Linked DNA regions of Homo sapiens: region 2 is linked to region 1. Evidence: fine-mapped expression QTL. Tissue or cell type: whole blood. Region 1 holds a variant in brackets; the other region holds the start of a gene. All regions are shown on one strand. Distances are between the middles of the regions.

Region 1 (2,924 bases):
TGAATCCAACGAGGATATCCTGCAGCTACCCGGCTATATCCTGGCAGACCCCTTTCCTGCAGCAACATGTCCATTTATTGCTGCAGACTGTTCTCACTGGTTTGATTATTCTCGGGACCCTCAGCCTTGCGGCTCATCTTTGGACTCTCCCACTCTTTTGAATTTGAGATATTGACTTCTTCTCCTCGATGCTCTCCAAGGACAATTTTTTGCCACGAACTCTTTGACATTTTTGCTGTTGGAGGACTTGAATAGGCTACCTTTGCCCTGGCAGACCCATGCTCTGGCACTAATCAGTTCTACCCTTCCAAGTGGAGAAGATAATCATGGTCTCTGGGGCTACAGCTCATATGCAAGGGCATTGGTGGAAATTGGCTATGGTTCCCATAGATGAGCACACAGTATATATTTCATTTACATGAACGAGTGGTCTTTTCAAATAAAACTTTTTTTCCCTTTTTTTTTTTTTTTTCTGGAGACAGAGTTTCACTCTGTCGCCAGGCTGGAGTGCAGTGGCACAATCTCGGCTCAGTGCAACCTCCGCCTCCGGGGTTCAAGCGATTCTCCTGCCTCAGCCTTGGAAGTAGCTGAGACTACAGGCACGTGCCACCATGCCCAGCTAATTTTTGTATTTTTAGTAGAGACGGGGTTTCACCATGTAGGCCAGGATGGTCTCGATCTCTTGACCTTGTGATCCACCCACTTCGGCCTCCCAAAATGCTAGGATTATAGGTGTGAGCCGCTGTGCCTGGCCTAAAACTCTTTGACACACACAAGGGTACAATCAATGTGTTACCATAGGTGAGTTTAACCAAATGTCCTTTAACATTACCTTAGACTCCAGGGTTTCTCAACCTTGGTAATATTCATACCTTGGGCAGAATATTTCCTTTTGTGGAAGGGCTGTGCTGAACATTGTATAATATTTATCAGCAGTCCTGGCCTCCATCCACTACATACAAGTACCCTCCTCCCTGATATGACAACTAAAAATGCCACCAGACATTTGCCAAATGTCCCTGAGGAGTGAGGAAGACGGGGGACAAAATCACCCTTGGTTGAGACATTTATCTATGTGTGTAGGTTGCTATTATTTGCAATCCTAACCCTGGAAACAAGAAAAATCTCCCAACATCTGACCTGGAGGCTTACAGAAAAAAAAGTGCTTGTCAGTAACCATTACACTTCGATTTGGGATTCCTGGGTGCATAGCAAAATAGAAAGTCGTCAGTTTTGTTTTGCTTTACTGATGTGTGCTTTAGGGGAAAAGCAAAGTGATCTGGTTGTGCTTGAATGAGATAGTGGTATTTTCATAACACAATTAGAATGGGGAAAAATTGCATGCAATTAGGTTGAAAGATGCCTTCTTTAAGATGCACTTGGCATAACAGAGCCAGCAGGTTGCAAATTATGGAATGTAGATTTTCATTATCGGGTCTGCATAATGTATAGCTTGCATTTAACAACCAGGTCTGAGGGTGGGTAGGAAGCATGT[C/G]AATTGTTTGGTGCGGTAACTAAGGCTTAACACTTTCTACCTCTGGTTTTTTTTATTGCTGTTGCCTTAATTTAAGCACATTTGCCGCTATATTTGCATTTTCTTCAGTTGCTCTTTTTTCTAGTGTATTACCATCATGGTCGCTGCCATTGACTATCAGCATCCTGTGGAAAATCATTTTAGAATCCTCCCAATGCTGGAGAGAGCAGAGATGTGAAGCCTGGCCATCCCCAACCCGGGCATGCCCAATGAGATGACTGGGAAGACCATGGCCTCAGTTTTTTCACTGGACAAAATGGGAGGAGGGGCAGTCGATGCTCATTTTCCAGTTCCTGCCTGACCCTCTCTGACCCTTTACTTTTTAAATCATTCATCAAATGACCATTTTAAAGTTTTAAAAAATTTTCAGTTCATCATTACTATCATTTTTCATCATATTTCACTGGGGCCTTATTCTTGCCAGGAAACTCTCTGCCCTAGTTCAAAACCTAGCTTACCACTTATGACAGTAGTCCCCCCTTATCTGTGGTTTCACTTTCTGTGGTTTCAGTTATCTAGTCAGCCACAGTCTGAAAATATCAAAAGAAAAATTTCAGAAAGAAATAATTCATATGTTTTCAATTACGCACTGTTGCTGAGTAGCGTGATGAAATCTCTCTCTGTCCCTCTCTATCCTGCCTGAGACGTGATGCATCCATGTGTCCGGCGTGTCTGCGCCGTAGACAGTACCTGCCTGTTAGTCACTTAGCAGCCATCTCGGTTATCAGACCGGCGGCCATTGTATTGCAGCAGTGCTTGTACTCAATTATTTAACTCAACTATTCTATTTTATTATTAATTGTTGTTAATCTCTTCCTGTGGCTAATTTATAAATTACACTTTATTATAAGGTATCCATATACAGGAAAAAACATAATATACATAGGATTCAGTACTATTTGTGGTTTCTGGCAACCACTGCAGGGGGGTTGCCTGGAATGTATCCTCATGGACTACTGTAGCTGGAAAATTGACTGAACTTCTAATCAGGGGTCATAGTCAAAATAGATAAAATTGTTGAGGCTCAACCAGTTCAAGCAGATGACAGCACAGCCCAGGAGCAGGTACTGGGAGTTCCTGCTGTACCAGGCGCTCAGCTTTGAGTCACTGGATCATGTGAAAGCAGGGAGGGGAACAGGCCAAGTGGGGAGCAGTCAAAGGAGGTGACCCAGAGGAGGACTTGGAGTAGCCAGAGTACAGGAGAGTGCTTGGGGGAATCAGGGTAGCAGATTTACCACAGATGCGGAAGCCACAGACTGTTAGTTCCGAGACTGATTAAGTCTCACCTGCCTCATACAAAATGGAAATTCAAATAGTGTTTATTGATAGGGTTATTATGGTGCTTCACGGAGATTTTGCAAGTAAAGCACATAGCATAAGGCCTGATGCA
Region 2 (2,924 bases), 4.8 kb before region 1:
AAACTGATAGTGAAAATGGGTTAAATTCTATAAATACGTTAAAGATATAAGGGGCTGCAGTAGATACCTGCTGAGATAGAGAGGGTGATAAAGAGAGGGAGAGGAGGAGAAAGTAACTCCTGTTACATGGCTGAAGGTATTACTCTTCAAAGCATTGAATGCGAGGAAAAATACACTCAAGTTAGAAAAGAAAAAGAGCACTATTTACATGATCAATGTGTTTACTTTGAGAATAGGAGGCATTCGGTAGAAGATTGCTGAAAGTCTTCAAATTATGTTATTGATAAGGCTCTAGGCTTATTAATCACAAATGGACCTCTGCCATAACTTCCACCTTCTGAATTATTTATATATGTGTCCTTGGATGTCAAATAAACCTATGGTAGTAACTTTTTAAAATATTTCCTAAGGCAAAACATTACTAAGCATCTTTTTTTTTTTTTTTTTATCAAGGCCTGAGATTGAAGTTAGAAAATAAAGTTTAAAAATAGATATTTGAAAAGAATTGCATTTTTGTAATGACATTTTAAAGCACAGAAAAGCTGTGAATACTTTGTTTCAATCAGACCAAATTCACTTTTATAACAAATAAACTGAAAATTCATTAGGTAAAATCTTTCCAGGCATCCAGGCCTTGGGATGTTTCTCTCCCTTAGTTTCATTTCACTGGAAGGAATTCTGGCAGGCTCAGAAATCATATGAACTAACCAGGGGAGGGATGGAATCAGCCTTCATTGCCTGGTGGTTTCTCTCTGTGTGTATTGTGACATGCACACACGTGCAAATAGAGAAAACCTCCATTTAATTCCTTAAGCAATTGTAACAGGCAGGCATCATTTTCATTTAAGCATGAAGATTGGGACTCAAAGATTTGCATAACTTGGGGAAGGTCACACCGTATGAAGGAAACATATTCAAGCCCAGCCCAAACTTCAGTTCTCCCACAGCCAGCTGCCTCTCACATGAGGTCAAATTACCTGACATACATAGAGTGAGTTTGGAAACTTAATAAAAACTCTCCTCCTCTCAAATGTTTCCTCTACCTAAGTCCCTGGCGTTTGGCTCTGAACAAGTCCTTTGAGGGTAAGAGGTACTGATATTAGGAATACTTTCTAAGACACCACGCCAGTGCTTCCATTGTTAGCTTACAGTGCACACACATTCACGGAGTTTATCAGACTCCGTCCAGCCTGGGATACTCTGAGCCTCTAAGAGCCCAGGGAACTCAGACGGCAAAGTTGGAGTAGGAGACCAAATCACCCATCCTCATTCGTCATGCTGATTACTTTGCCTGCAGCTAAACCTGTCTTTAATTTTAAAATTAAATATTTTTAAAAAGTGTTTCTTCCTGTGGAATTGTGTTTTAGAAATTCTGATTTTCTTTTCCAATTTCCCTTGGAGATCAAATTTGAAGAAAATATTATTGAATACCTACATGATAATTTGCTACAGGTAATGTACAAAAGAGAATATAATGACATAAATATATTTGTGTTTATATTGTCATAAAACTCACCTTTCAGTTCTATTTAGTAAAAGCTTACCCTGTATATGGACCCATGCATGGATAGGACATGCTATCTGCTTTCTCATGAGGAGCAGAGGCACAGGTAACTTTGAGGCAGGGAGGTTGTGGTTATGCAAAGAAAGATGATAAAGAAGAAATGGGAGAGCTAGAAGACAAACAGCCATACGTGGTATGTGATAAAAAAGCTAAGTGAGCACATGGACAGAGTGCTAAAGCTCTAAGAGAGAGGAAATCTTTTTATTTCATGGTAGTAAAGCATTTACCACCTCATAATAGTTTTGTGACCTTATGAAAAAGGCTCGGGCTCTCTCAGCTCTGGTTTCCCCAGCTGTAAAATTGCAATGATAACAGCTTACCTCTGAGGATAGTTGTGAAGGTGAGGTGGTGAGCTAAAGAGCTAAGGAATCAATTAGTGGCTTTTATTATCATCATTATTGTTATTCAATGAGGAGATGATATTTGAGATAAGCCTTCCTAGAAAGAATATTTGAGGAAGTTTAGGAGAATGGGAAAGAGAACATCTATGTGGGTATGGGATGGTGAGGGGTGGAAAAAAATGGTGAACAGGTGGCATGTGCATTGTATGATTGGGAAAGGAGAGACGGGAAAGGAGCTGTCTGATTATGTCCTGGTTCCTGATGCCGGCTAGTGTGTGGTTAGGAGGGGATAAGAGGACAGGGCTAGTTTGGGGGCAATAGTTATATTATTTCTCATATGGCTTCTCAATTAACTTAGGATATTCTTCCTAAAGTGTTATCTCTGTCAGGAAAAATTGTGGAAAGACTTTGAAATGGATAAAATAATTACTAGGTGTCCTCTTTAGCTGCCTTTCCATTTTACCTAATTCTATAGGGGTCTGCACTTCTTTTGAACCATTTTATAAATCTGTAATGTGTAGAAAGCTTATGTGAATGCAAATGACTTTTTCCTAGGAATGCAAATAAACTTTGTCCAGTAGAATCAAATGTATTATTGCCCAGTAACTATTGACATCTTCTGTGTTTGTTTATTTCAGCATTTCTGATTGCACGGATGTGTGTGTTGTTTGAATCCTCCCTCATACTGATCGTAACATCTTACTGGTTCACTCATTACTTAAAGAAAATCTTTACATACATTCATTTTATATTTGTTAAGAGTCATATTTTATTGGGAGGTCGAGGCGGGAGGATCACGAGGTCAGGAGATAGAGACAATTCTGGCCAACACGGTGAAACCCCGTCTGTACTAAAAATACAAAAATTAGCTGGGCGTGGTGGCATGTGTCTGTAATCTCAGCTACTTGGGAGGCTGAGGCAGGAGAATTGCTTGAACCAGGGAGTCGGAGTTTGCAGTGAGCCGAGATCACGCCACTGCACTCCAACCTGGTCCTGGTGCCACTGCACTCCAGCCTGGC

Evidence for each region. PIP is the estimated chance that this variant, and not a neighbour inherited with it, causes the effect.
Region 2: LINC02207 starts here. The variant in region 1 is fine-mapped to the expression of LINC02207 in whole blood (INTERVAL, PIP above 0.99).

Annotation. Positions count from the first base shown.
Region 1 is chr15:93,859,496-93,862,419 of GRCh38, forward strand. The region is part of intron 1 of LINC02207 (long intergenic non-protein coding RNA 2207); the gene reads left to right. Among named protein-coding and RNA genes, the nearest start is that of LINC02207, 4.4 kb to the left of the region's middle. The variant C/G (reference allele first, on the strand shown) is at 1,496.
Region 2 is chr15:93,854,693-93,857,616 of GRCh38, forward strand. It overlaps LINC02207 (long intergenic non-protein coding RNA 2207), which reads left to right and starts at 1,868. Exons shown (of 4, transcript NR_120321.1): 1 at 1,868-1,904.